4 linked regions of the Homo sapiens genome follow. The protein of the gene in region 3 purifies or fractionates together with the protein of the main gene of each other region. This does not show direct contact. Each region holds a gene or a part of one and is shown on either strand. Other genes may lie near its edges.

What was found.
Region 1: the proteins of DPEP2 (region 3) and CHPF2 purify together in Homo sapiens (affinity purification with mass spectrometry; 3 studies listed by BioGRID and IntAct, with this or other methods). This does not show direct contact.
Region 2: the proteins of DPEP2 (region 3) and LRFN3 purify together in Homo sapiens (affinity purification with mass spectrometry; 3 studies listed by BioGRID and IntAct, with this or other methods). This does not show direct contact.
Region 4: the proteins of DPEP2 (region 3) and METTL9 purify together in Homo sapiens (affinity purification with mass spectrometry; 3 studies listed by BioGRID and IntAct, with this or other methods). This does not show direct contact.

What each region holds. Positions count from the first base shown.
Region 1 is NC_000007.14:151,227,902-151,235,495, reverse strand, and holds the start of CHPF2 (chondroitin sulfate glucuronyltransferase), read right to left. Parts: upstream 3,014-7,594; 5' UTR 2,732-3,013; coding exon of another isoform or gene 2,682-2,731; 5' UTR 1,485-2,681; coding exon 1,222-1,484; intron 449-1,221; coding exon 1-448. UniProt on the Homo sapiens protein: Transfers glucuronic acid (GlcUA) from UDP-GlcUA to N-acetylgalactosamine residues on the non-reducing end of the elongating chondroitin polymer. Has no N-acetylgalactosaminyltransferase activity.
Region 2 is NC_000019.10:35,931,450-35,939,377, forward strand, and holds the start of LRFN3 (leucine-rich repeat and fibronectin type-III domain-containing protein 3 precursor), read left to right. Parts: upstream 1-4,924; 5' UTR 4,925-6,106; intron 6,107-7,928. UniProt on the Homo sapiens protein: Cell adhesion molecule that mediates homophilic cell-cell adhesion in a Ca(2+)-independent manner. Promotes neurite outgrowth in hippocampal neurons.
Region 3 is NC_000016.10:67,996,468-68,004,159, forward strand, and holds the start of DPEP2 (dipeptidase 2 isoform 1 precursor), read right to left. Parts: upstream 3,018-7,692; 5' UTR 2,950-3,017; coding exon of another isoform or gene 2,908-2,949; exon of another isoform or gene 2,800-2,907; intron 1-2,799.
Region 4 is NC_000016.10:21,595,002-21,602,585, reverse strand, and holds the start of METTL9 (protein-L-histidine N-pros-methyltransferase isoform 1 precursor), read right to left. Parts: upstream 3,010-7,584; 5' UTR 2,853-3,009; coding exon 2,688-2,852; intron 1-2,687. UniProt on the Homo sapiens protein: Protein-histidine N-methyltransferase that specifically catalyzes 1-methylhistidine (pros-methylhistidine) methylation of target proteins.

The sequences.
Region 1 (7,594 bases), on a different chromosome or scaffold from region 3:
AAGCAGGAGACTCCGTGACAACAGGTAGCCAAAGCCCCCATGACAGTACCGGGCCTGCTCGCCTGCGCCAATGAACTCCTCTGCCCGGCCTAAGTACAGGTCTTGGTTGATGCTGAGGTGGCCAGCAAGGGCTGCCAGGCGGGGGGCCTGCACATATGTGTCATCCTGCATGATGAAGAACCAGTCGTAGTCGGCCCCAAAGTGTGTGTGAAGGTGGCGCAGGGTCTCTGACATGAGCCAGGCGGGCCGCTCATCCCCATGAGACACCACCTGCATCCCTGCTGGAGCCCGGGCCCCCCGCTGCCCAGTGAAGTAGAGTAACCGAGGGAAGTGATGGGCCACCGTACGGTTCACAGCCACGGCCAAAGTGGACAGTGTAGCTCGGGAGGTCAGGACAGCCACCAGCAACCGCTCACGGGAGCCCAGCTCTGTCTGGATGTACCGAGTCCTGTGGAAAGACCAGTGTGCCAGAGGTCAACTCCCTAATCTTTAGGAACCCAGCTTGTTCAGAATATACATCCCCCTCTAGGAGTGAGTTGGGGCTGAGAAGGGAGAAACTTCCTTCCTTGTCAATATTAATTAGGTACTGAACTGAGTATCCACTAAGTAGCTGACACGAATTGATTTGGGAGGGGAGGGAGTCTACCAAGGATAGATTAGGTAGGTTAGATGCAATTCCTCCTCTGTTCAAGAACATCGAACCCTGGCTGGGCACGGTAGCTCACGCCTGTAATCCCAGCACTTTGGGAGGCCGAGGCAGGTGGATCACCTGAGGTCAGGAGTTCAAGACCAGCCTGACCAACATGAAGAAACCTCATGTCTACTAAAAATACAAAATTAGCTGGGCGTGGTGGTGTGCACCTGTAATACCAGCTACTCGCAAGGCTGAGGCAGGAAAATCACTTGAACCTGGGAGGCAGAGATTGCAGTGAGCCAATATCGCACCATTGCACTCCAGCCTGGGCGACGAGAGCAAGACTCCGTCTCAAAACAAAACAAAAACAAACAAAAAACATCGAACCCTAATTTAACACCAATGAATGTGAGACTTTCTAAGACCTGAGAAGGAGGGAAAAAACAGAAAGAAACCATGATGGAAAATAAGCCAGAATTGCTCCAAGTCGCCCGACGCCGATTGCCAATGGAAAGGCAGAGGCAAGGATTTACACCAGCCCAAAACAGGGCCAGTGTCTGGGGACTATGCACACATGTTGCTCTCACCTGAGCACCTTCTTGTAGGGCTTGTTGGGGTCCCTGTAGTAGGGGACAATCCGGGGTTTGAAGTCTTCATCACTTTGGTCTAGCCGAGCTCTGGAATCTGGATTCTGTGGCCCTCCTCGCTCCCCTACAGCCTCGACACAGGGATCTTCTCCCTCCCCCTGGATCCAGGAAACCCGCAGGAGGCTCAGGCTGCACCCCAGAGACAGCCCTAAGATGAGGGGAAGCGCTGGCCGCAGCAGAGCCAACAGGGAGCTCAGTCGCATGGTGGTAGGCCCTGCCAGGTGGGTGCCCCAGGGGCACAGCCTCAAGGATCAATGGATTGATGGGCACCAGGCCAGTAGTAGGCTTTCAGTTTTAACCAGAGAACCTGGGGTCAATGAGGCCAAAGACAGAGCGAGGCCCGCTGGCTTCCAGGACCAGCATCCCCAAGAAGATTGTCCTGTCTTCACAACTCCTTCTGCCTGCTCTTCAACTGTGAAGGTGTCGGAACTAACCCCCAGCCAAAACGGTAATAAATGAAACAATCAATTTCACTCACACTGGGATTATGGTCTGTCTTCCACTAAAAAGAGGAGGAAGTAAAACTCAATACTGCCAAAGCTAACCCAAAAAGGAACACTACACACATCTGCAGACTGGGCCTAAGTCAACAGATGACAGCAAGTGATAAGAGGTAAGGGAAAAGCACACGATCCATCAAAACAACAGCCCCAACCAGAGGAGCCGGAGCCTGCCTCAGTGGGCCTTTCCGGAAGAATGCCTGCCTCTGGCATCGGTCCTCAGGCGGGCTACTGAAGGGGCTGCTGAGCCACTGCGGCAGGCCCGGTGGGCACAAGGGAAGGGGCCAGAGCCTCTTTCTACTCTGCTCCCCGTGTTTGAGAAGACGCAACGGCTACAGGAACCCCTCCTCCCACTCAGGAGCGGTCTGGAGCCACTCGCATGGCACACATAAGTTCTGCCCACCCGAATGAGGTAGATCGGTGACTCAGCACTGACAGCCTCTCAGGAGCGCCATGGCCGATGGAGCCATCTTGCAGGGCATTCTCCTCGGAACCCCAGCTGCTGAGGAGACAGCAGGCGGGGACTGGAACTCTGTGTGCGAGCGATTCGGTGCCTGGTTTTACCAGGGCCCCAGGGGCCAAATGAAGCAAACCAAAAGCAAAGAGAGAGCACAAGCAGCAACTAGAGACAATGCCAGGGTCCTGGGAACGCAAACAGAAGCGCGGCCAGCTTCCGACAGGACCCCTGCCGGGGGCCCACAGCCCCTGCGCTACCTCTCGGCGATCAGAGACCAAGTCTAGCCCTAGAACGAAGACCCGACGCGAGTCTTCGCCGTTCGTCTCAAAACAGAAATAAACTGGCCACGTCACCGGGCTGCTGAGAAGGGGGCTCGGGAGACCAGCTCGGGTCGTTCTGCGAGGCGGGGTCGGAGGTCGCGGCTGGGAGACTGGGGCACAGACCTCGTTCTCAGGCCAGTCGGCGGGAGCGGAGGCCGCGCCAGAGACAGCATCGAGGCCGCGAGCGCAGGACCAGGAGGGACGCCCAAGGCCCTCGGGGAGGAGGCCCGGGTTTCAGGGCCGGGGGCCGGCGGACACCGGATAAAGGACGGCCGGGGTCTCCCGGCGTCCCGGGAGGGGGCGGGGCGGAGGCGTGGGGACCAAGAGCGGCGTCCCGCACGCGCCTGGCAGGGAGCAGGGACGGGGAAGGGGGAACAGACCCCAGTGCCCGCTGAGGCGCCGGCTCCGCCGCTGCAGCCGCTGCCACCTCACAGCCCCTGTCCGCAGCTTCCTCTTCCGCTGCCTGTCAGTCACCCGTCTCTATGGTGACCGCATCCGGCCGCTCGCTCCGCCCGCGCGTTCTCTATGGTCGCTCCCACGGCCTCTCAGCACCGCGCACCTCCTCGGCTGGGATCCGGGCTGCCTGGCCCCAACCGGCCGCCCCCCGATAAGACGCGTTCGCCCCCACATACGCGAATCCAGGCAAATCCAGAGTGGACCAAAGCTGCCCCGTAACTTGGGCTGAACACCATCTGCCCTGGAAAAAGCATACCCCCACCCTCGAGAGCGCTTTTCTCCCAATTGGCTGTGGAATCCCATCAGCCTTTCAGTTGCCTAAGAAATGTTTGTTGTTTGCCAGGCACGTACGTTCATCTAAGGATGCTAAGTTCCGGGCATCTTCGTGAGTGCTGGGTAAACAAGCGGTGGACGAGATGGGCATGGTCCCTGCTCTCAGGGAACTGAAAGTTGAGGGAGACAGGTAATAAACACGCTTGACATAGCAAGAATAAAACAGGTAGAAATCCCAGTCTGATAAGTACCATTGCAGAAAAGCACAGAGTCCTGTGGAAAAACTAAACAAAGTATTAAATTAGACTGGGAATTTGGCAATGCTGAGATCCAAAGGTTCAGGAAAAGTTATCCAGACATGAAGTGGACAGTTTTCCAGGCAAAGAAAAGAGCACCAGAATGTCCTGAGAGAGGAAAGAGATTGGCTTGGAGAAGAACTGGGAAGGCCCAGGGCATCTTTGAGCCTGGTGAGGGGAGAACAGCCCAAGGTAAGGCTGGGGAACAGGGAACAGGTAAAGCATTCAGACCACCACAGTGGTTCCCCAACCAGAATGGCACCCTCCCTAAGGAGCAATTTGGAAATGTTCGGGGCAATTTTGTTGTCAAATGATTGGGGGAGAGGAGCCAAGGAGGCTCCATGTCTTGCACATTGCAAGATGGTATCACACAAGAAAACTGTCCTGATCCCACACAGCTTTCACATGTCCTACTGAATATTCATATAGGTTAAAAAAAAACTGGTTATAATCATCTGATGTGCCTGTGTCTTATATACAAAAAACAAAGTAATCTTGTAGGGGTGTAAAATGTGCTGAATTTTTAAGGAATGTAACCACCATGTTAACAGAAGGAAGATTATACTTTGTTGTGTTCAGGAATTTATTAGGAATTACTCACCATTTTGGAGAACTGGGTCACTGATAGCAGTGTTATTCATAGCGTTCAGTCTGCATTTGTACTGTCACATTCAAGGTGCTCCTATGCATAACTACTAGCATCTGACTAATTATGCTTTCTAGCATACTGAAAAGTATTATCTTATTATAAAGGATTTCCTTTTATTCTTTCTGCTTTGGTTCAGACACTATAATTTTTTTTGAAATTATGTATGTAGTTAGGCTATACTATCTATAAACTTCATTTCACAATAGTAAATGGGGAGTTATAAAAATGTTATTAAAATGGAACATTGGGGCTGGTAAAGTTAAGAACCACTCAAGAATATCTTGTATGTATATCTTATAGATACCATTCTAGGAGTATATAAGATAGAACTCACTGATATTGCCTACCAGCACCTGTTATCCCTGTTTTAGTCTCATCCTTAGACTGCAACTGAATCTGTTCTCATCAGCTGGCACATGATAGGTTGTAAATGACTTGTTGGAAGAGACTGGGAAACAGCAGATACACTTAGCTCAAGGTCAGAAGATTTCTAGACCAGCGCTGTCCAGTAGAAATCTAGTGCAAGCCACAAATGTGAGCCATATATGTTGTTTAAAATTTTTTAGTAACCACATTTTTTAGAGTTAAAAAAGGTAAAATTAATTTTAATATTTTATTGTATTATTAGATATATCCCAATCATTTCAACATGGAGTCAATATGAAAAATTATTGATGAGATACTTTACATTCTTTTTTTATATGGAATATTTGAAGTCTGATGTGTATTTTACACTTAACAGCAAATCTCAATTCAGACTAGCCACATTTCAAGTGCTCCATAGCCACATATGGCCGGAGGCTACCATACTGAACACTGCAGGTCCAGATCCTTTTCAGTTACTAAGTTCCTAGGTAATTCTCCAAGAGACATTTCCTTCCTTGGGTCTCCGTTTCTTCATAATTTAAACAGAGTCTAAGCCAAATATTCTTGTTTCCAGCACTGACCTTCTGTGATTTTTTTCAAATTTAGCCAGTCCCTTTCTCCTCTCTCTTTACTCACCTCCTTTTCTCCCCCATTTTCCCATTTCTCTTTCCCTGTTTCTTCTCCCCTCATCCCGAGTTCTTTTCTCTGGCTAAACCCAGGGCAGGGTGGGCAGGGGGAGGGATGGTGGCTCACACCTGTAATACCAGGATTTCAGAAGGTCGAGGCAGGAGGATCTCTTGAGCCCAGGAGTTTGAGACCAGCCTGGGCAACATAAGAAGACACCATCTCTATGTAAAATTTAAAAACTGTAGCCAGGTGCAGTGGCTCATGCCTGGAATTGTAATCCCAGCACTTTGGGAAGCCAAAGTGGGCAGATCGTTTGAACCCAGGAGTTCCAGACCAGCCTGGGCAACATGGCAAAACCTCATCTCTGAAAAAAAAAAACAAAAATTAGCCAGGCATGGTGGTGCTTGCCTGTAGTCCCAGCTACTTGGGAGGCCAACGTGGGAGGATCGCTTGAGCCCAGGAGGTCGAGGTTGCAGTGAGCCATGATCGTGCCACTGAACTCCAGCCTAGGCAACAGAGCTGCCCAGAGCTGCTTGTCACCGTAGTTTCCTGATCTGCAAAATGGTAATAATCCTCACCTCGGAGTTTGTTGGGGGTGGGGAGTTTAATGTGATGGCATAAATGAAAAAGCATAATAAATATTGTTATCTGTAACCACACATTTTTAAACGAGGCTGGGAAAGGAGAAGCATATTTCTCCCAGGAGGCACAGGCGCTTGAATCTGTTTCTTTGTTGTGTTTTGTTTTTTGAGACAGGGTCTTGCTCTGTTGCCCAGGTAGGAGCGCAGTGGTACGATCTCAGCTTGCTGCAGCCTTGACCTTCTGGGTAACTGGGACCGCAGCGATGCGCTACCACGCCCGGCTAATTTTTGTATTTTTTTTAATAGAGATAGGACTTCGCCATGTTGCCAAGGCTGGTCTTGAACTCCTGAGCTCAAAAGATCCACCTGCCTCCACCTCCCAAAGTGCTGGGAATACAGTCATGAGCCACCACACTCAGCCAAATGAGTGCTTTTTATGTGATCCACAATCATAAATAACTTTTTTTTTTTTTTGAGATGGAGTCTCGCTCTGTTGCCCAGGCTGGAGTGCAGTGGCGTGATCTCGGCTCACTCCAAGTTCCACTTCCCAGGTTCACGACATTCTCCTGCCTCAGCCTCCCGAGTAGCTGGGACTACAGGTGCCCGCCACCATGCCTGGCTAATTTTTTGTATTTTTAGTAGAGACGGGGTTTTACCGTGTTAGCCAGGATGGTCTCGATCTCCTGACCTCGTGATCCGCTGGCCTCGGCCTCCCAAAGTGCTGGGATTACAGGCGTGAGCCACCGTGCCCGGCCCATAAATAACTCTTTTGCTTCATACAGAAGGGTTTTACAGTCATTTAACTGTATTCTTTTTGTAACTATATTCCCATTTTACAGAGGAGAACATGTACTTTGCCCAAGGCCACACAATGAAGCATAGAACTGGGGTTATGCTCTTAATTATGCTATGCCAAGTGAGGTCTCCACCTAGGTACCCCAGCAACACACGAAAGTCACTTCGTTTAGGGCACTTAATTTCATGGTGTCAAGGTCTGTTTTTTTTGTTTTTTGTTTTTTTAGAGACAGGGTCTAGTTTTGTCACCCAGTCTGGAGTGCAGTGGTTTGATTATAGCTCACTGCAGCCTTGAACTCCTGGGCTGAAATGATCCTCCCACTACGGCCTTCCAAAGTGCTTGGATTACAGGTGTGAGCCACCACACCCGGCTTGTTTACTTTTCACATGTTCCTTCTTTATTATGAGCTCCCTGAGGTCAGGGAGTGACTTTGCACCATTGCAACTCCAGCACATATATCTGAGCCTGACAGATAGTAGGCACTTCGTTGGTGGAGGATATTCTAGGAAAATGTATGTTCAAAGGCATGCAGGTGTAAAATAGCACGCTTAATCTCCGAACTATTTAAGTAGGTAAGTTCTACTGAAGTATGAGTTTGAGAAGAAAAACTAATTCTCATTGTTTGAGTCACGGACTGTGGGCGAAAAGGTGCCACATTTGGAGAATATGCTCAAAGGGAGCAATAGCTTCCTTTGCTGCCCCAAACGTCACTGATGGTGAGGCTTCTGCTGCACAGGAGCCTGGAGAAGTAACAAAGATCACAAAGGGCCTGCCTTGTACTTGAGGCTAAACATTTGGAGTTTACAATGTAGGTAATGTGAAGTCCTTGAGAGATTGTATTTATTTTTAAACCATCCAGCCCAAAATGTCATGTGAGAGATTTTAAACAGTGAGACTCAAAGGGAAAGTAACGGGCCCGGTAGCATGGCTAACTAATAATAAAACAAATCTCAGCCAAGGGGCCTTTTTATCTCGGGGCCCTTTCCACCAAA
Region 2 (7,928 bases), on a different chromosome or scaffold from region 3:
CTCTGCAGCTCTGGAGGCTGCAGCTTCTGGTCCTGGACCGGGACTTAGGTCCACACCCACGTGCTGACGTCGGGCAGGCTCAGCGGCCTCCCGCGCCTGCGCAGCACCGCCCTTTTCGGGCGCGGCGCCCAGTCCCTACACCCCACAATCCCCCGCGCCGTTCCGGAGGCGCGCTAGGAGTGGGTGTGGCCTCTGCCTCCACATTGGAACAAGGTGAGGCAGAGGGTGTCGCGTGGTCTTCTGGGAAATGTAGTTCGTCTGCCAGGCCGGAACCACCGCTCAACCGGCTCGCGAGACTATGCACCCCACAATGCGCCGCGCGCGCAGCGGCTAAGCGATGCGTTGCTGCCTCCACGTGGTGGCTGAGTGATCATGCTCCGGTTTGGGAATGGGGCCCAGAAGGGTAGGGTTAGGGGCGGGGACGGTGCTGGGGATGCTGAGGGTCGCCCTGGAAACCTCTGGGAAGATTTTCCAGAGGGTAAGTCCCCTGAACCTGGCCCACGAAAGGGTAGTAGTAATGAAGAAATTGGAGGTGGGGCCCGCTATGAGGACCGAATGACAGAGCAGCACCTGTTGGCTGCATATGATAATCAGGCTACTGTTACACCTAAGACTCACACAGTAGGCACTTCCTAGGCCACTTACCGCTCCCTGCGCTTCAGGTATCTTAGCCCATTCAATCCTCCCAGCCACCATTCGAGATATTATCAGCCCTCCTTTCTAGGAGTGAAGCTGAAGCCCAGAAACGCGAATCACTTGCTCAAAGTTATTCAACATGTCAGTGGCAGAGCTGGGATTTGAACTAGGCTGTCGGGCTACCAAGTCTGGGCTCTTCTTCATAGGAATATCTCATCACCCTATTCAGTTATCCTAAAATTGTAATTAGCACATGAATCAAGTCAAGATGGTCATTAACATGTGAATCTCTTTGAGTCGCTGATTACCAGCGCTTGTTCCTGCCCAAATTTGTGACTTAGACCTGCTTCAGGACAAAGTTGACAATCAACATAGATTTATAGTTAGCACATGAATCAGCACAGGTTTCTGTTCACAGGGATCAGATTTCTGATTAGCACTTGAATCAGCAGTGGTTTGTGTCAACAGCTGGAGTCTTTAGGTTCCTGATTTGCACAGGGATCTCCATCCAGGGATTATTTTCTTGCCTAAATAGGCCTGTTCCTTTATGTCCAGGTGACCTTCTCTTCAAATGTTGTCCCAGCTGGGTGCAGTGGCTCACGCCTGTAATCCCAACACTTTGGGAGGCTGAGGCGGGAAGATTGCTTGGGTCTGGGAGTTTGAGACCAACCTGGGCAACATAGCGAGACCCCGTGTCTCCATGAAAAATAAAACAATTAGCCTGGCATGGTGGCATGCTCCTGTAGTCCCAGCTACTTGAGAGGCTGAGGTGGGAGGATCCCTTCAGCCCAGGAGTTTGAGGCTGCAGGGAGCTATGATCATGCCACTGCATGGCAGCCTCAGCGACAAAGCAAGACCATTTCTCTTAAAGAAAAAAAAAAAAGGGCGGGCACAGTGGTTCATGCCTGTAATCCCAGCACTGTAATCCCAGGTTGAGGTGGGCGGATCAACTGAGGTCAGGAGTTCGAGACCAGTCTGGCCAACATGGTGAAAACCCATCTGTACTAAAAATTTTTTTAAAAATGGCCAGGCACAGTGGCTCACGCCTGTAATCCCAGCACTTTGGGAGGCTGGGGTGGGTGGATCATCTGAGGTCAGGAGTTTGAGACCAGCCTGGCCTACATGGTGAAACCCCATCTCTACTAAAAATACAAAAATTAGCAGGGCATGGTGGCACGTGCCTGTAATCCCAGCTACTCGGGAGGCTGAGGCAGAAGAATCGCTTGAATCCGGGTGGCGGAGGTTGTAGTGAGCCAAGATCATGCCACTGCACTCCAGCCTGGGTGACAGAGCGAGACTCCGTCTCAAAATAAAAATCAGCCAAGCGTGGTGGTGCATGCCTGTAATCCCAGCTACTCAGGAGGCTGAGGCAGGAGAATAGCTTGAACCCAAGAGGTGGAGGTTGCAGTGAGCCGAGATCATGCCACTGCACTCCAGCCTGGGCGACAGAGCAGGACTCTGTCTTTAAAAAAAAAAGAGATGGGGGCTGGGCGCAGTGGCTCACACCTGTAATCCCAGCACTTTGGGAGGCCGAGGTGGGGGTATCACCTGAGGTCAGGAGTTCAAGACCAGCCTTGCCAACATGGTGAAACCCCATCTCTACTAAAAATACAAAAATTAGCCGGGCATGGTGGCACATGCCTGTAATCCCAGCTACTCGGGAGGCTGAGGCAGAAGAATCGCTTGAATCCGGGCGGCGGAGGTTGTAGTGAGCAAAGATCACGCCACTGCACTCCAGCCTGGGTGACAGAGTGAGACTCCGTCTCAAAATAAAAATCAGCCAAGCGTGGTGGTGCATGCCTGTAATCCCAGCTACTCGGGAGGCTGAGGCAGGAGAATAGCTTGAACCCAGGAGGTGGAGATTGCAGTGAGCCGAGATCATGCCACTGCACTCCAGCCTGGGCGACAGAGCAGGACTCTGTCTTAAAAAAAAAGAGATGGGGGCTGGGCGCAGTGGCTCACACCTGTAATCCCAGCACTTTGGGAGGCCGAGGTGGGGGGTATCACCTGAGGTCAGGAGTTCAAGACCAGCCTTGCCAACATGGCGAAACCCCATCTCTACTAAAAATACAAAAATTAGCTAGGCATGGTGGTAGGTGCCTGTTATCCCAGCTACTTGGGAGGCTGAGGCAGGAGAATCACTTGAACCAAGGAGGCAGAGGTTGCAGTGAGCCAAGATTATGCCACTGCACTACAACCTGGGCAACAAAGTAAGACTCTGTCTAAAAAAATAAATAAATAAATAGGCCGGACACTGTGGCTCACGCCTGTAATCCCAGCACTTTAGGAGGCCGAGGCGGGCAGATCACGAGGTCAGGAGATCAAGACCATCCTGGCTAACATGGTGAAACCCTGTCTCTAATAAAAATACCAAAAAAATTAGCTGGGCATGGTGGCAGACGCCTCTAGTCCCAGCTACTCGGGAGGCTGAGGCAGGAGAATGGCGTGAACCCGGGAGGTGGAGCTTGCGGTGAGCCAAGATCACACCACTGCACTCCAGCCTGGGCAACAGAGCTAGACTCTGTCTCAAAAATAAATAAATAAATAAAATAATAATAAAATGGGGTTATTTGTTTTTTGCTTGTTGCATTGTTTAAGTCCCTTATAGACTGAATTCCTCTTTATGTCTCTAAATACATTTGTCTCTTTGGTACACATCTGCGGTGCTACATGCCCTCAACCCACCAGGTTTTAGCATAGCTGTTGTGGTAGACAGTTCCGTGTGCAGTGCAGATAGCCCTGGTTCAGCCCAGCTGTTCTCAAAATGTGGTCCCTGACCAGGTGTAGTGGCTCACACCTGTAATCACAACACTTTGGGAGGCCTGGGAGGGAGGATTGCCTGAGGCCAAGAGTTCAAGACCAGCCTGGGCAGCATATTGAGACCCTGTCTCTACAAGAAATTTTAAAAATTAGCTGGATATGGCGATGCATGCCTGTAGTCTCAGTTACTCTGGAGCCTGAGGTGGGAGGATTGCTTGAGCCCAGGAATTTGAGGTTGCAGTCAATTATGATTGCACCAATGTACTGGGTGACAAAGCAAGACCCTGTCTCAAAAAAAAAAGTATGGTCTTTGAAAAGTCACATTAGCATCACCTGGGTACTCGTTAAAAATGCAAATGTTTGGGTCCCACCTCAGACCCACTGAACCAGAAACTCTGAGGTTGGGACCTGGAGATCTATGGTGCCCCCGGGTGATCCTGGTGGGCTGCACTGCAAGGACACCTGGCCTGGCTCCTGCAAGGCAAGGCATCCCTCTCTGCTTTTCTTTCTTTCTTTCTTTCTTTTAAAGACAGAGTCTCACTCTGTCACCCAGGCTGGAGTGCAATGGCTGGATCTCAGATCACTACAATCTCCACCTCCCGGGTTCAAGCAATTCTCTTGCCTCAGCCTCCCGAGTAGCTGGGATTACGGGCGTCCGCCACCACACCCGGCTAATTTTTGTATTTTTAGTAGAGACGGGGTTTCTCCATGTTGGCCAGGCTGGTCTCCAACGCCTGATCTCAAAAGATCCGCCCGCCTTGGCCTCCCAACGAGCCGGGATTACAGGCGTGAGCCACCGCCCCCGGCTGTCAGTGTGTCTTGAGGTCTTTCCCTAATCCCAGATGGCACAAGTTTTCCCTCTTGCAGGCAGAGAAAGGAGCCTTGGGAAGGAGCCCCTCTGGCCTGAAAGATCAAGCCTATTGCTGGGCATGGCCAGGTAAGGAAACTCCAACCGTGGAAAGGACATTCCAGGGAGGTGGTGCTGAGATAAGGGGGGCAGAAAGAGACAGGTTTGGGGGGCCAGTGGCTCTGGAATGAAGCGCTACACTCAAGGCTAGGAATAGTTACTGAATGCACATACACACATACCATTCTCACAGCCCAGGTGCTGCGTCTTAGAGCGTGTGAGTGTGTATGTGTGTGTCTGTGTGTGCGCGCGCACGCACGTCTCTATCTCTGTTTCTGTCTTTCTCTGACTTGTCCTTATCTCTTGTCTCTCCATCACTCTCTGTGTCTCGCTGTCTCTGTGCATTTCCATGTCTCGAATATGTGTGTGTTTCAATCTGTCTCTCTGCCTCTTTCCATTTTCTCCTCTCTATCCATCAATCTAAGCCTGCCCATCTTTTTGTCTGCCTTTCTGTATCTCCGTTCTTCTCTGTCTCTCTGTCTCAGTCTCTCTGTATCCAGGGATTCTCTTTCCCAGCAGCGCCAGTGCGACTCCATGGGAGGTGGGGCCGGGGCGCGTCTTTGAGAGAAGGGGCGGGTGCCTACGCCTTTAAGCGCGGGTGCGCGCGGAGCCTGCGCCTTTAAGCGCCGGTGCGCGCGCTGCCCTGGGTTGCCGGCGAGGAGGCCGCGGGAGCGCCTGGACCCGGCCCGCCCAGCCCGGCCCCCGCCCGGCCCCCGCCTCGGCCCCGGCGGGGGAGGGGTCTCTGAGCGCGGCCCCTCCCCCCTGCGCCCCCGCCTGCGCTGCGGTGCCCCCATCCCGCGTGTCCCAGTCTGTCTGACCGTCCCTCCGCTCCCAGGCCTCGCCCCACCCGGCCCTGGGGCTGCCCGGTCGCCCCCCTCCCCACCGCAGCCGGTCCCCTCCCTCCCAGTCAGCCTCCGCCGCAGCCCAGGAAGCCAGCCGGGACGCCGCCGCCCCGGACCCCGCGCCCTAACCTCCACCTCGGGGGCCTGCACCCCCAGATTGAATCGGGAATTCCGGAAACCCGAGCCTGGAACCCTGATCTGGGACCAGCACCCCGAGATCCGGCCGTGGAACCCCAAGATCTGGAGCCTGAACCCCAGTATATGGGGCTGGAATCTCAACATCGGTCACTGGGACCTCAATATTTGGAGCCGGAACCCCACAATTTGGAACACAGACCCCAATATTTGGAGCAGAACCCCAAGATTTGACATCTAAAACCTCAAGCCTGGAGCTGAACTCTGAATTCTGGGCCTGGGACCTTGAAATCTGGGACTGGATTTCCAGTACTGTACCCTGGAACCCACTCTTGGGGACCTGAACCCTGGGATTCAGGCCTCAAATTCCAAGATCTGGACTGTGGGATTCCAAGGGGCCTGAACCCGAGTTTGGGCCTGAAGTCCTTGCTGCAGACCTGAGTGCTTAAATCTGGGGCTTGAGACCTCCCAATCTTGACTCAGCACCCCAATATCTGAATGCAGAACCCCGGGATCGGATCTCAGACTCTAAACCCCACCGTTTGGCTGCTTAGCATCCCAAGACTGGACCTGGGAGACCCTGACCCTGAACAACCCAAACTGGACCCGTAAAACTGGACCCTAGAGGCCCAATATTTAGGGGTCTGGAACCCCGAGTATTAAGGTCTGGAGACTCCGTTGCCACAGATTTGAGCCGAGTCAGGACACAGTCCCTCTACAGAAGCCTTGGGGACAGGAAAAGCATGACCAGATGCTCCCTCCAGAGCCCTGACCTCTGACTCCCCTGGAGCTAGGACTCTGCTCCCTGGGGCTGCTTCTAGCTCAGGTAAGGCTGCTGAAACCTCAAGGTGGGGACGGGCTGGGAGGAGCATTGTGGCTGCGGGTTACGGTACCAGGTACCCTTTGACACTCTTGGGGTTTCTCCAGAAAAAAAGACATTCCCCCATGGGTCTGCCTTCAGCTCCTGCTCTGCTCCAAACACTCTCTGGACACTGGCCATCCTTGCCCCTCTCTGACCTTCCCTGCCTCAGTTGATGGGACCTCCAGGTCTCTGACCCCTGCAACCCTTACAGCCTTTCGCTGTCTATCCGGTCCGACCGTCTCCGCCACCTCTCTTGTCCACCACTCCTCTCTCTGGGCTCCTTTCTCCACCTGTCCTCTCAATGGCCATCTCTGTTCCCTTTTTCTCTCTCTGATCATCTTTGTGACACCCCTGTCCACAGGTCCTCTCTCCAGTCGCCTCTGCCTGCTGCTTCTCAGTGACCATCGCTGACATCTGTGTCCACTGTGCCTCTCTCTAATCATCATTCACCAGCTCTCTTGCTCCTTCTCCACCCCTGAATCTAAGCCTAGGTCTGTGACCGTCCCCATCCATCTTTGACATTGCTGTCCACCACTCTTCTCTCCAGCAGCCTCTGTCCATCTCTCCTCTCTAGCTTCCTCTGGCCACCTTTCCCTTTCTCTGGCCATCTCTCCCACTGCTCTTGCCCTCCTCCCACCCCTGACCCTAACTCCCAGTCTGCAACTGTCTGACCATCTCTGGCCACCTCTCCTCTCTCTCTCACTCACTGATGCCCTCTGATCATCTCTGGCCACCTCTTCTCTCTCTCTCACTCATTGATGCCCTCTTGATCATCTCTGGCCACCTCTTCTCTCTTTCTCACTCACTGATGCCCTCTTGATCATCTCTGCCCACCTCTTTTCTCTCGCTCGCTGATGCCCTCTGATCATCTCTGGCCACCTCTTCTCTCTCTCTCACTCACTGATGCCCTCTGATAATCTCTGGCCACCTCTCCTCTCTCACTTGCTGATGCCCTCTGATCATCTCGAACATCTCTGCTGCCTTTCCTCTCTCCGATGACCTCTCCCCGCACCATCCTCCTGAGCAGCTGTCCTGGGCTCCCACTGACTCTGCCATGTCTGTCCTTTTCCTCCTCTCTGACCACCTTGCTGGCTTTGGGCCGTTTCTGACCACGTGTCTCTGACATGGTCATCTCCCCCAGATCTGAGCCCAACCCATGCCCTCCCTTCTCTTTGTCCACTGCTCATCTTCCTGACCATCTGTAACCCCTTCTCTTCTCTGGTCATATCTGACCACTTCTGATCATTGTTGCCACCCTGGCTGCCCCGTCTCCCCATGGCCAGCTTTTACCATCTCTGACCACGTCTAAAGCCCTCTGGTTTTCCTGCCACTCACCCAGACCAGCTGTCATTTCTCTGACCATTTCTTTACTTTTTTCTTTTGGAGAGACAGAGTCACGCTCTGTTGCCCAGGCTGGAGTGTGGTGGCGCAATCATAGCTCACTGCAGCCTCAAATTCTTGGGCTCAAATTGATCCTCCCACCTCAGTGTCCCATGTAGCTAGGACCACAGGTGGGCGCCACCATGCCTAGCTAATTTTTAAAAATTTTTGTATAATAGATACACGGTCTCACTTTGTTGCCCAGGCTGGTCTTGAACTCCTGGCCTCAAGCCATCCTCCTGCCTCAGCCTCCCCAAATGCTGGGATTACATGTGTGAGCCACCGCGCCTGGCCTTCCTCTGGCTTTTGGTCACATCTGACGGTCTTTGACCAGCCCTTCTGCCCTCAGCCCACTGTGACCTTCTCTCCTGGTCTCAGACCACCCCCAGCCCCTGCAGAACCCCTC
Region 3 (7,692 bases):
ACCTCCTGGGTTCAAGTGATTCTCCTGCCTCAGCCTCCCAAGTCACTGGAATTACAGGCATGTGCCACCACACCTGGCTAATTTTGTATTTTTTAGTAGAGATGGGGTTTCTCCATTTTGTTCAGGCTGGTCTTGAACTCCTGACCTCAGGTAATCCACCCACCACGGCCTCCCAAAGCGCTGGGATTATAGGTGTGAGCGACCGCACTCGGCCAACTTTTTGCATTTTTTTTTAAGCTTCTCTCCAGAGCCCGAATGTCTGACCTCCTGGGACTTGGGGTACCTGCTAGCTCAGCAGAGGCAGGCTGAGTTGAGCCAGTAAAAGTGAGCACTGTCTCTGTAGGAGATAAGCCAGACAACACAATTTTCCATGATATGCAACTTCAGTCCTCAAATGTGGCCTTGAGGGGACCATACAAAGCGAATCACAGACACACCCACACTTGTAGTTGCAGTGAGCATTATGATAACACCATAGCATTCCAGCCTGGGTGACAGGGCAAGACCCTGTCTGTAAAAAAATAGATAATGATATTATTATTATTATTATTATTATTATTATTATTATTATTATTATTTTCTGAGACAGAGTTTCATTCTTGTTGCCCAGGCTGGAGTGCAATGGTGCAATCTTGGCTCACTGCAATCTCTGCCTCCTGGGTTCAAGTGATTCTCCTGCCTCAGCCTCCCGAGTAGCTGAGATTACGGGCGCATGCCACCACTCCCGGCTAATTTTTGTATTTTTAGTAGAGATGGGGTTTTGCCATGTTGGCCAGGCTGGTCTCGAACTCCTGACCTCAGGTGATCCGCCTGCCTTGACCTCCCAAAGTGCTGGGATTACAGGCATGAGCCACCCCCGACCCTTGGCCAAATTTTTTATTTTTATATTTATTTGTTTATTTATTTTGAGATGGAATCTCGCTCTGTCGCCCAGGCTGGAGTGCAGTGGCACAATCTCGGCTCACTGCAAGCTCCGCCTCCCGGGTTCAGGCCATTCTCCTGCCGCAGCCTCCCGAGTAGCTGGGACTATAGGTGCCCGCCAACACGCCCGGCTAATTTTTTGTATTTTTAGTAGAGACGGGGTTTCACCGTGTTAGCCAGGATGGTCTTGATCTCCCGACCTCGTGATCCACTCACCTTGGCCTCCCAAAGTGCTAGGATTACAGGCATGAGCCACCGCGCCCAGCTCACATTTTTTAAAATGGAAGAAATAGGTATGGCTTTTCTGTAGGGAATGGGCTGGAGGCCAGGAGATCAGGAGGGGTAAGGAATGAAGGGGCCTGTAAGGGGGAGAAGCAGTGGGAACAGGAAGGAGACATTCCTGGGACATGTTTGGAAGTTGAACCCAGGATTTGGAGATGCTTTGAAGCAGGGTTGGTGGGAGACAGTAAGGAGGAATCAGCGGTGACACTTAAGGTCGGCTCTGGAGTCAGGCCCTGAGTTTCCCCGCCTCTGCCTTGTTTCCACTCTGCCCACTGCCAGCATCTAGCTAACTTAGACTGTAGCCTCTGACCCCAAATTATCCCTGTGCTCAGGTCTGTGCCACTGATATTGGCAGCTCCTAATGAGAGGTGACAGCGTGCTGCCAGTCCTCACAGCCCTCGCTCGCTCTCGGGGCCTCCTCTGCCTGGGCTCCCACTTTGGCGGCACTTGAAGAGCTCTTCAGCCCACCGCTGCACTGTAGGAGCCCCTTTCTGGGCTGGCCAAGGCCAGAGCCAGCTCCCTCAGCTTGCAGGGAGGTGTGGAGGGAGAGGCGCGAGTGGGAACCGGGGCTGCGAGCGGCGCTTGCGGGCCAGCTGGAGTTTCGGGTGGGCGTGGGCTTGGCGGGCCCGCACTCGGAGCGGCCCGCGGGCCCTGCTGGCCCCGGGCAATGAGGGGCTTGGCACCCGGGCCAGTGGCTGCGGAGGATGTACTGGGTCCCCCAGCAGTGCCAGCTCACAGGCGCTGCGCTCGACTTCTCACCGGGCCTTAGCTGCCTTCCCGGGGGGGCAGGGCTCGGGACCTGCAGCCCTCCATGCCTGAGCCTCCCACCCCCTCCATGGGCTCCTGTGCGGCCGGAGCCTCCCCGGTGAGCGCCGCCCCCTGCTCCACAGCGCCCAGTCCCATCGACCACCACAGGGCTGAGGAGTGCGGGCGCATGGCGCAGGACTGGCAGGCAGCTCCACCTGCATCCCTGGTGCGGGATCCACTGGGTGAAGCCAGTTGTGCTCCTGAGTCTGGTGGGGACGTGGACAATCTTTACGTCTAGCTCAGGATTGTAAATACACCAGTCGGCACTCAGTATCTAGCTCAAGGTTTGTAAACACACCAATCAGCACCCTGTGTCTAGCTCAGAGTTTGTGAATGCACCAACTGACACTCTGTATCTAGCTGCTCTGGTGGGGCCTTGGAGAACCTTTGTGTCGACACTCTGTATTTAGCTAATCTGGTGGCGACGTGGAGAACCTTTGTGTCTAGCTCAGGGATTGTAAACGCACCAATCAGCACCCTGTCAAAACAGACCACTCGGCTCTACCAATCAGCAGGATGTGGGTGGGGCCAGATAAGAGAATAAAAGCAGGCTGCCTGAGCCCGCAGTGGCTACCTGTTCTGGTCCCCTTCCACACTGTGGAAGCTTTGTTCTTTTGCTCTTTGCAGTAAATCTTGCTACTGTTCACTCTTTGGGTCCATGCTGCTTTTATGAGCTTTAACACTCACCGCGAAGGTCTGCAGCTTCACTCCTGAAGCCAGCGAGACCACAAGCCCACTGGGAGGAACAAACGACTCCAGACGCACTGCCTTAAAAGCTGTAACACTCACCACGAAGGTCTGCAGCTTCACTCCTGAGCCAACAAGACCACAAACCCACCAGAAGGAAGAAACTCCAAACATCCAAACATCAAAAGAAACAAACTCCAGACGCGCTACCTTAAGAGCTGTAACACTCACTGCGAGGGTCTGCAGCTTCATTCTAGAACTCAGTGAGACCAAGAACCCACCAATTCCGGACACACTAAGACAAGATTTCACTAGTGTGTGCTGTTTCCCCTGCAAGGGGGAGGGCACAGAGATGGCTTTGGGTGAGGTTAGGGGGAGGATAGGCCTCCTGGTTGGCTAACACTTGTTTACTTCTGGGGCATGAGTGTTCATGTGAGCCCACGATGCCTGGCCTGTTCCTCTTTTAACAAAGTCTGGTAGGACATGGTGGCTCATGCCTGTAATCCCAGTAATTTGAAGGTCGAGGTGAGAGGATCTCTTGAAGCCGGAGGTTTGAGACCAGTCTAGGCAACATAATGAGAACTCTAAGAAAAAGGAAAAAAAAAAGTGGTGCATGCCTGTGGTTCCAGGTACTTACGAGGCTGAGGTGGGAGGTTCGCCTGAGCCCAGGAGTTTAAGGTTGCAGTGAGAGACGATGGCACCACTGCTCCCTAGCCTGGGCGACAGAGTGAGACCCCATCTCTAACAAAACGAAAACAAGATCCAATGCATCCTCCTGCCTGAAGTTCTTCCGTGGCTTCTCATTGCAGAAATCTACCGAATTTCTTTCTTTGGCTTTCAACTCATGGAGAGTCTGCTCTCACCAGCCTCTCCAGTCTCAGCAAATAGCACAAACTTTCCTGTCCTCCAAAATCTGGCCACCTCAGTGATGCTACGTCCCCCCATAGAGCCTTGGCACAACCTCAGCCTCCAATTGGTAGGGCTGTTGAGGCAAGGCCAGGATAGGAAATCTTGCTACCAGGAAGGAGTAGGTGGGTGAACAGCTTTTCCCTCTACTTCCTCTTCTATGCAGTGTTTGCATAAATCAAGACCTGCAGAGGAGGCAGCAGTAGAAACAGTTTGCTCCAAGGACCAAACTTATTCTGGTGTGCAGCTCACTCGCCCCTACTCATCTCCAGTGTATTTCAAGAGTATGCAGGGAAGGAAAAAGTCAGGCTGAGTTATAGCTGCACAGGCTGCCTCCCATGCTCAGAGCGCAGAGGTGGGGTGCAGCTGGGGCTTACTCAGTATCCAGCAGTGCCCAGATGATGATCATCTGCATCCAAGCCCCTCTGGTCCTGGAGACTCATGCTTCCCTTTGATGTCGCCCTGGATCTGCTCCCATGATGTCTGATACAGACAATTCCCAAGAAACAATAGTCTTCCAAGCCAGAAAGCAGCCTGGCCACTGTAGACAAACATCCTCCAATCACCAAGCTGAAGCCACCCTTCCTGAAACGTCAAATAGCTAACATAACATTTTTCTTCCACAAAAGGAAGTCAATGTTTATGTTTCTAGGAGAAGTGCAATAACCCCAAATGCATCTTTATCTCCTGAATGCATCTAGAACCTTCTGCTCAAGCCTTACCAACCAACCCCTACCCCGCCAGCCTCTCTGTCCAACATTCCTGGGGTGCTTTTTTTTTTTTTTTTTGGAGTGCGAGGGCACGATCTCGGCTCACTGCAACCTCCACCTTCCAGGTTCAAGCGATTCTCCTGCCTCAGCCTCCCAAGTACGTGGGATTACAGGCATGCACCACCAGGCTGGCTAATTTTTGTATTTTTTTTAGTAGAGATGGGGTTTCACCATGTTGATGAGGCTGGATTGTCTCGAACTCCTGACCTCGGGTGATCCACCAGCCTTGGCCTCTGAAAGTGCTGGGATTACAGGCATGAGCCACTGCGCCCGGCCTTTTTTCTTTTCTTTTTTTTTTTTTTTTTGAGACAGGATCTTGCTCTGTTGCCCAGGCTGGAGTGCAGTGGTGCCACTTTGGCTCACTGCAACCTCCGCCTCCCAGGTTCAAGCAATTCTCCAACCTCAGCCTCCCTAGTAGCTGGGGCTACAGGCATGCACCACCATGTCCAGCAAATTTTTGTATTTTTAGTAGAGACGGGATTTCACTACATTGGCCTTGAACTCCCGGCCTCAGGTGATCCACCCGCCTTGGACTCCCAAAGTGCTGGGATTACAGGCCTGAGCCACTGTGCCTGGCCCTGGGTTGCTTTCTGATGGAGACGATTGATGACTTGGGTCCCATGTGTACCATTGAGTTCCTCTTGCAGCTGGGTTCTGCCTGATTTCAGACAGTACAGAGGATCTGGGACAGAAGGCTGCATGCTATCCCATGTCCTTGAGGTAGTGCCATCAGCCGAGGGTGGGGAGGAGGCAGGAGGGCCCTGGGGTGCAGGAGCTGGATCCAGCAAGGCCATTAAAAGTATCTCAGGGGACAAGAGATGGTGGCTCATGCCTGTAATCCTAGCACTTTGGGAGGCCAAGGCATGAGGATTGCTTGAGGCCAGGAGTTCAAGACCAGCCTGGGAAACATGGTGAGACCCCTTCTCTACAAAAAAATTTTTTAAAAAGTAGCTGGTCATGGTGGCACATGTCTGTAGTCTCAGCTACTCAGGAGGCTGAGGTGGGAGAATTGCTTGAGCCCAGAAGTTAGAGGCCACAGTGAGCTATGGTCGCTCCACTGCATTCCAGCCTCTGGGAAAGAGCAAGACCCTGTCTTAAAAATAAAATACCTTTTCCGAAACATTTTTTGTAAGATTAAAAAAAGAGAAAAGAAGGAAGGAAGGAAGGAATAAAGAAAAGAAAAGAAAAAAATTTTAAAAGGTTGGGTATGGTGGCTCACGCCTGTAATCCTAGCACTTTGGGAGACCAAGGCAGGTGAATTGCTTGAGCTCAGGAGTTCGAGAGCAGCCTGGGCAACATGATGAAGCCCCGTCTTTATAAAAAATACAAAAATTAGCCAGGTGTGGCAGTGCACACCTGTAATCCCAGCTGCTTGGGAGGCTGAAGCAGGAGAATCGCTTGAACCCGGGAGGCGGAGGTTGCAGTGAGCTGAGATCGTGCCACTGCACTCCAGCCTGGGCAACAAGAGCGAAACTCTGTCTCAAAAAAAAAAAATTTCCTTTTAGAGACAGGGTCTCACTGTGTTGTTCACTGAAACTTCAAACTCCTGGGCTCAGGCAATCCTCCTGCCTCAGCCTTCCGAGTTGCTGGTGGAATCTGTGAGAAACATGGTGACTCGGTCAATAACCATGCCCCAGGCAGTTGTGGGGGACAGCCTGTATTCCATGGCGGCAACAAAGTTTTCATCTACGGACAGGGCCTCATCATCACCTGCGGCCTTAGCCTGTTCTTCAAAAAGCTGCCACTGCTGCATAGGATCATTTAGATCAGTGTAGGCATTGCTTATCGCTTTCTTTATGACAAATAGCTTAAAGCGCTGGGTCAGACCTTTTGAGTAGTGCCATTTAGCCAAAGGGCTCATTATCTGGGGGTGATCACAGATGAATGTAGAATTGTTGCAAATCACTTCCAGGAACTCCCCCAACAAGCTTGTCAAGGAGCCTGGCTGTGGTCCTAGGTGGAGGGCACGCAATAGCATTTGCACGCAGATATTATCAAGAATTTTGCCAATTGCTTCAGTTTCAAATAGGTTATTTTCTGGCAGCTTCACCCCCAGGGCTTTCTCAAGCTCTTCTATCATGCTGATTCTCCGGAAGGGTAGGGTGAAGTCAATATTGCAGGCTTATCCCTCTGGGACATCTGGGTAGTAGGTGACCTTGTAACTACCTGTATTATGCTTCACCATCCCTGGAACCATCTTCCCCGTGATTTCCGTGAGATTGTGATAGTCTAGGCCATGTAGAACTCAGGGGTGCTGAACTCAGGATTTTACGTCAAATCAATTCCTTCATTCCAGAACTGGAATGCAATTTCATAAACCTGGTCAATGCCACCAACCACTAGCATCTTATGGTAGAGTTCTAGAGTAGTTCATGTGCAGCTTGTTGTGATAAGTGATGAAAGGCTTGGTCATAGCTCCCCTGGGATGACGTTCATTCATGGGAGTTTCAAGCTCTAGGAATCCCAGCTCATCCAAGAAACTTTTTTTTTTTTTTTGAGATGGAGTTTTCTTGTTGCTCAGGCTGGAGTATAGTGGTGCAATCTTGGCTTACTGCAACCTCCACCTCCTGGGTTCAAGTAATTCTGCTTCAGCCTCCTGAGTAGCTAGGATTATAGGCACCTGCCACCACGCCCATCTAATTTTTGTATTTTTAGTAGAGGTGGGGTTTTACCATGTCGTCCAGACTGGTCTCGAACTCCTGACCTCAGGCAATCTGCCTGCCTTGGCCTCCCAAAGTGCTGGGATTACAGGCGTGAGCCACTGCACCTGGCCTAAGAAACTTATTATACATGTGATGATCTTACAGCAGATGATAAATTTCTGCCTCATTCATTCAGGATCAAGTCCAAGTATCTCTGACCATACCTTATTTCCTTGTCTTTGAGGCCAAAGTGAAGATGAGGTAACATATACAAGCAAGGCCACAGCAGTGTGATCTCATAGGGAATGAAGCTCAGCTCATCCTTCTTGGTTTTTCCCAGGATTCCTCTGAATTCCAATTATGTTTCCCCAACGCAGTTTGTTATTAATATGAATAAATTATTCTTCCTGAAATTATAATTCCTGAAATTGGCCATGACTTGCAACTTGACCCCCTCTGCTCAAAGATCATAGAAGTTCATGGCTGGGCACTGTGTCTCACGCCTATAATCCCAGCACTTTGGGAGGCCAAGGCAGGCAGGCAGATCACCTGAGGTTGGGAGTTCGAGATCAGCCTGACCAACATGGAGAAACCTCACCTCTACTAAAAATACAAAATTAGCCGGGCGTGGTGGCGCACGCCTGTAATCCCAGCTACTAGGGAGGCTGAGGCAGGAG
Region 4 (7,584 bases), about 46 Mb from region 3:
TCTTGGTAACCATTTAAAAATATAAAACTATTCTTATTTCATAGGCTGTAAAATAAGTCTGTGAGACCAGTCTGGCCTCCCAGCCACTTCCCTGCTCTAAGTGAAACCCTGCTTCTTGCTTGCCCAAAGTGAAACATAATCCCAGTTTTGAAGCTAGCACACCAAACCAAGTTACTAAAATGGCACTGCTACTACAGTTTTAGAGCAGCTTTAGCCCAAAGGAGCCTTGCCTCTCCAAACTATACTAACAAAATAGCCATTTTTAACGAATAAACATTGCCCAAGATCTCTCTTTTAACCACAGAATCCTCCATCATAATTCCTTAATAAAATAACCAGAAGGAACACTTTTGCTAAGTATGGTTCAATCAAATCCACAACCCTACTTTTATGCAACTCCAAAAGGCCCAGATGTGGCTGGCTATGGAACTCACACACCCAACTGAACACTTAGAAGACCTTGTATAAAACTATTAATCTGAAGGAGGAAAAACAGTTACAGTTACTTCACAAGCAACGAAGTTATAAGGCAAACCCAGGATCCTGGAATATTAAGTGGAAAACAAATTATCAACTCCAGCCACAGTGCAGAAAGGACAGTTTCCTACTTTATCTCATGGTGGTTTCTACACACCTTTCTTCTGTTCCTTTTAATCTTTATTCATGCACGATTATTTTCATAATATGAATGTATTCATGTCAAAATAATGTCTGGATTCATTATTCTAAGGAAAAGAGTTGACCCATCCCCCAAATATTCAGAAAACACCATATTAAGTCTTCACCCTAAAGAAATTATCTGCTGAATTGTTAGTGAAGGGGTACACACACACACACACACACACACACACACACAGAATATAAATACGGTATCTGAAATAAACGTATCTGAAACCAGTATTAGTTTTCATTAGAACTTAACAGATTCAGCTTTTAAAAGGTACAGTCAGAAAGTATCCTCTGCTGGGAGATATTCTGAGGCTATGTCTACAGCTGCAATTCCGCCTCCATACACATCACAGTGTTGAAATAGTGTTTCAATTTTAAAATAAGTGCAATTCTTTTATGAGCACTAAAAACCTACCAAGTGGCTGCAGTAGGGGTAATCATGATAAGTGTTATAAATACCAATAGCTAAGAGACTCAACCATAATCCCCCATCAATGGAGATAAATCGCTTTTTCTCCTATCCAGGACCTTATTTCTATCAACTGCTTAAAAATGTTAAAAATGACATTTCTAATTCATTGTCTACCCCATTGTTCCATATGTGACATTCTGGTAACTGTACAGTCAACGGTACAGTACCTTTGAGTTGTCTCTATAAGAATGAACTAGTGTAAGCAAATAATCCATAGGAATAAATGTGGTTTTGCAATTTAAGTTTACATACATTCCTAACCATATCATACAAGTGATCAATGATACTGATATTGCACCTAACAAACTGCAATGGCTGGAGGCTTTCAAAAAAATTTACAGAAATTTAGGATTCCTTTAACAATAGAAAAAAGCCCAATATACATATTACTAAAGACTAAATGCTACTTTTCTAAATTGCTCTATCTCCTTCTTAGACAATTCTCTACCCTCATTAAAACACATGAAATCAACCTGGGTGTAAATTCTCTGAACACCTGGCATAATAAAAAAGTAATGTAGGAAAATGAGAAATATATGAAAATGATGAGACACAAGATGATATAGGGAATAATTAATACTCTATGGAAAAGCAAAATGTATTATAAATGCTAGCTATGACAAGCCAACACTCTGGCAGAGTTCAAAAGCCTCTTTTCAATGAATTTAACATTAACTGCAAACTATGTTAAGGTCATATACGAAATATCTCACTTAATTCTACAGTTAACCTGTACACGTTTAAGTGGCGCAAGACTGAGCTAATGAAAAGCCTACCTACCCGGTCACAGCGTAACGCTCACGATGCATAACTAAAACTCCCTCCCGTCCCGTTCTGTTTTAAAAACCCTTCCTGTAAAACTTGCATAATCTTCCTCCTCATCACACACAATCTTTCTAGCAGGCTGACTAAATCCAAGTTTAAAGGAGATCTCTGCTAGGTAGGAGGGGAAGGTTCCGTAGGATGGGAGCGACAACCTGTCAAACCCATTTTTTAAGTGCTTAGGGAGAAATGTCACCCCAATCAGCCTGGAGAGTTCAATGGCTTGCGATGTACAGTTACATTTCTTCACGACCCTTTGTACGTTCTGGGATTCAACGAGACAACAAGAGGGGCTGGCTTTTCGTTTTGTTTCTCGGGGTAATGGATCTGGCCGGGTCTCTTCAGTCTCAGGCCTCGGTGCCAGGCGGGCGCCCCCAGCCACGCTCTGGCCCCAAAGTTCCCCAGTCCCGCTGCCGGGCGTCCGCAGTCACCGCCCGGGACCCAGGAACAATGCGGGGCTCCGGGCCGCTCACGATCGGGCCCGGGAGGCCATGCCCCGCCTGCGCTGCGGAACAAAAGGCGCTCGCGGGGCCGCGGCCGGGTGCCCGGGGCTCGCGGAGTCGACGCCCGGCGGGGAAGGCGCGGGGAAAACTTTCCAAGGGGCCGAGGCGGAGGGGCGAGGGCCGGGCCGCCCCCTCGCGGAGCCGTCCCGCACAATAGCCGGGCCCAGCGCGGGAAGGCCGGGCCGCCACGCCCCCGCCCCGGCCCCGGCCCCAGCCCGTACCTGGTGGTTCTCCTTCCTGCCGCCCGCGGCCGCCGCCGGCCCACCCGGGCCGCTAGTCATGTTCACGTACAGGGAGCGGGTGAGCGGGCTCCGCAGCGTCCACATCCTCCGCGCCAGCCACACGGACGCCAGGCTCAGGCACAGCCAGCCCGCCAGCAGTCTCATCGGGGGCCGCGGCCGCTCGCTCGGATCACCGCCGGCGCCGGGGCGAGGAGGAGGAGGCACCGCCGCCTCCGGCCACCGCCGCCACCGCCCGAGCTCGAGCCATCGCGGCCGCCTTGCCCATCCAGCCCCCTTCAGGGCAAAGGCTGGGGGTGGGGAGGAGCAGCCGGCGCGCAGCCTCGGCACCTCCCCCTTCCCTTCCGGCCGCGGAACGCCGCTGCCCCCTGCACCAGTTTCCATCCGGAGCACTTACGAGCGGCCGCGTCGCTTTCTCCCCCGGCGCCCTCCCTCCGTCCAATGAGCGGGCCGCTGGGAGGCGGGACAAAGGGAGCGCGCATCCGCCCGGAGCGCGTTCTCGTGTCCCGGCCCTGCCTTGGCCTCTAGTAAATGGCGGAGGTGGTTTTAATTTTTTTGAGGGCTGAGGAGATCACTTCCGAAGGCGGTAACTGCAGCCTCCCTGCCCCTCCAAGGTGGTGCTGGAAGGACCTCCAGTCTTTCCTCGCCTCATCCCACTCCACGGCGGGACTTTGACAGGGTTACCTCTCGACCCTCATCCCACTCCACGGCGGGACTTTGACAGGGTCGTGCAGTTAACCCCGGGGGCGCAAAGAGGGGAGTCATTCCTTTCGTGCATCCTGACACACACAGGTTCTTCCCGGAGACGAATGGTGCCAGTGATGGTTGCCCGCTCGGATGCGTAGTTTCCAGTTTACATTTAGAACCGACCTGCCAGACTCCCTCCTCTACTCTCCCCACCACCACGACCCGCCTGCCCCGTTCCCCAAGCCTGAGAAGTTGCTGGCTACGTGTTTCTATAAAGAATGAGTGAAAATTCTGCCTTTTGGGGAAGCTACCGCAGCTGGGGTACCCACAAGTAATGTTTTAGATGTATTGATGGCCCTGCCCAAGAATGAAGACCTCAAGTTAGACTCCTTGGCTGCCTTGTTTCCTTGAATTAGCACAGGGAAGTTGGACCCAACACTCTTAAGAGTGAACTCAGCTCTGGGAGCAGTGTTTAACCCGGATATTTATTTGATCATTTATAACACGAGGAGACCTAGCAACATTTCAGAACTGAAGGGTTAGTTACACTGTGTTCCTGTCTGCAGTTCTTCCTGCTATTATCCAAGCCACAATTAAGGAGTAACATTTCGTGGGAGTCCCTAACTTTAATACTTTCCTAGGTTTGTTTGGAAAGTGCTTTTAATTTAACTGCACCAGAAATAATGTAAATGTGTCTAAGTTCAAAACAAAAGAAGTAAGCCTTTTGGTTAATTCAGCGTTGCACATCAGAGATTTTCATTTATGAAACAGTGGGGTGGTGAGCCACAGATGGGGAACAAAATCATTCCTTACCCAACAGCTTTTTTTTTTTTTTTTTTTTGAAACGGAGTGGAGTCTCGCTCTGTCTCCAGGCTGGAGTGCAGTGGCTCGATCTCGGCTCACTTCAAACTCCGCCTCCCGGGTTCAAGCAATTCTTCTGCCTCAGCCTCCCGAGCAGCTGGGACTACGGGTGCGCGCCACCATGCCCAGCTAATTTTTGTGTTTTTCGTAGAGACGGGATTTCACCATGTTGGCCAGGATGGTCTCCATCTCTTGACCTCGTGATCCGCCTGCCTCGGCCTCCCAAAGTGCTGGGATTACAGGCGTGAGCCACCGCACCTGGCCCAACAGCTCTTTCATTAGCTTTTAAGAATCTCAGCTTGGCACCTTTGGCTAACAAGGATATCTTGTTGCCTAATGTAACAGGCTGTAACAACAAACAAAAAGGCACAGGGTGGGTGGGGTTCGGTATTTTGTGTTCTCTCTTTCCAATATACTCCCTGACTGCTTCCTGCCAAAACCCCGAAAAGCCCAAGCCTTACTAAATCTAGTTCAAACCTCTAGTGGTCCTGGCCCAAGTCATCAAAAAGGAACTATGGTAGCAAGTCCAATAACTGTTTATTTACTATGACACCTCTCCTTCCTGTCTCTTAGGATCAGTGTAACAGACAAAGCAACTCTGTCACAAAAGGAAGCCTTCATCTTTTTAAAGTGGGGGTGAAAGCAGCAGGAGTGCATAAAATGGCATATTTCCTTTCTGAAGACAAAGGAGACAAAAAGGTATGCCCCAGCTATAGAGTGAGACCACATAGCTGTAGCTGAGAGACTGCAAAATGTTATCAGATGAACAAGCAAGTAGATGGCTGCTGTAGTCAGAAGGATTTTGGGGTCAGTTGACTGCCACGAAGCCTAACAGCTCAAAGGAGCAGATTTTGTTTTATATCTGAGCAGCTGGCCTAGAAAAATAAATCACTCATACATTTAAAATACTCTATAATAACCACCAAACACTCAAACCCATGCTATTTACATTTAGCAGGCACAGGAAGAAACCAGAGCATCCGATGATCAAATGATTTGCCTGAAGGTAGCAGAGTAAATTCAATAGCTGACCTTTTCATAGAACTTGGTATCCCAGCTCGTGGTCTTTCGATCCATCTAAGAAGCTTTGCTGTCTCTTCTCAGAGAGCCTCCTGAATTACAAATGAGGAGAAACGAAAACAGCAAGAGTAAATATACGAAGCAGAAGTTCAGATTGCCCACTGGGGACAGCCCCCTTCCTTCATCTACTAGAATGTCACTACCGTATATTAAAACCTCAATTCTCCATAATGGAGACGGGAAGGGGCAAGATGACACAAAAAGCCAAATAGCCAATACTCGTTCTAACATGATCTTGAGATGCAGTTAGTAATATTCAAAAGATACACAAATGACCCTCTGCACCGAACTCTGCTCATTGACCCCAGGTGTCCCACTTGGGTCACAGCCCTGTACACAGGCCCAAAATTTTGGCGGGATCACTTTCCTATCTAGATCTCTAGGCAAAGGCTTTTTGTTATTGTTGTTCTTTGAAGTTACAAAGCTTGGCATTTTCATATTCTCTTTTCAATTACAAAGTATCATGTTAAGAGAATCCACAAGCAGAGAGTTTGGATCTGTACAAAACCTATTGATGATTGTTATCTCCTTGAAGAGATAATGATTTAAAAAGAACTCATATAGACCAGGCAGGGTGGCTCATGCTTGTAATCCCAGCACTTTGGGAAGCCAAGGCAGGTGGATGGCTTGAGCCCAGGAGTTCAAGGCCAGCCTGGGCAACATGGAGAAACCCCGTGTCTACAAAAAATACAAAAATAAGACAGGCGTGGTGACATGCACCTGTAGACCCATCTACTCAGGAGGCTGAGGTGGGAGGATCACCTGAGCCTGGGAGGCTGAGGCTGCAGTGAACTGAGATTGTGCCACTGCACTCCAGCTTGGGTGACCCTGTATCAAAAAATAAAAATAAAAATAACTCATATAATCACTTTTTTTTTCCCGAGATGGAGTCTTGCTCTGTTGCCCAGGCTGGAGTGCAGTGGCACGATCTCGGCTTGCTGCAACCTCTGCCTCTCGGGTTCAAGCAATTCTCCTGCCTCAGCCTCCTGAGTAGCTGGGATTATAGGCACCTGCCACCACGCCTGGCTATTTTTTGTATTTTTAGTAGAGATGGGGTTTCACCATGTTGGCCAGGCTGGTCTCAAACTCCTGACCTCGTGATCCGCCTGCTGCAGCCTCCCAAAGTGCTAGGATTACAGGCGTGAGCCACTGCACCTGGCCATAATCATGTTTTTATGGACAGATATTTTTTATGCTTCTTAATATTGTTTTGTATACCTTCAGAGAAAGATACAGCTTTTTCCCAGTATATTCAATAGAATGTGTCCTGTAGTTATTAAGCAATGAGCACCTCTAACAAAATTAGCAAATGTACTCAACAATTTGTTTAATTAATTAACGTAGGAGATCTTTATCTGAATTTAGTTGATACAACTTCAATCCTGTGCAATGATATCACTGTGGGCTCCAGTTGATGAATTCTAAGTCAAGGCAAAACTGCAGACAGCTTTGAAAAAAAAAAAATTAGTAGCCTAGGCCAGGCACCATGGCTCATGCTTGTAATCCCAGCTACTCAGGAGGCTGACACAGGAGAATCGCTTGAACCCAGGAGGCAGAGGCCGCAGTGAGCTGAGATCATGCCACTGTACTCCAGGCTGGGCAACACAGTGAAACTCCATCTCAAAAAAAAAAAAAAAAAAAAAAGCCTCAAGTAGCAGAATTGAACCAGGGGTTAGAAGATGTTAGTAGTTGGCCAGGTGCGGTGGCTCACACCTGTAATCCCAGCACTTTGGGAGATTGAGGTGGGTGGATCACAAGGTCAGGAGTTTGAGACCAGCCTGGCCAACATGGTGAAACCCGGTCTCTACTAAAAATACAAAAAAAATTAGCCAGGGGTGATGGCCTGCACCTGCAATCCCAGCTGCTCATGAGGCTGATGCAGGAGAATTGCTTGAACCTGAGAGGTGGAAGTTGCAGTGAGCTGAGATCACACCACTGCACTCCAGCCTGGGTGACAGAGTGAGACTCCATCTCAAAAAAAAGAAGACGTTAGTAGCAAATACAAGTAACATCGTGTGCTTCATTGGAGAACTCCCAGTGCTACTCATTAGCATGGTAGTTTATCATCTGCACTTTGAGCCAGACTATCTGGGTTTTAAGCTGGGCTCTATGCTTCTTGATTATGCAATTTGAGGCAAATTATTTGACCTCTACATGTCTGTTTCCTCATCTGTAAAATGGAAATAATAATAATGGTTACCTATTTCATAAGGATGCAGTGAATATCATGTTATATACTATAAATATAAAG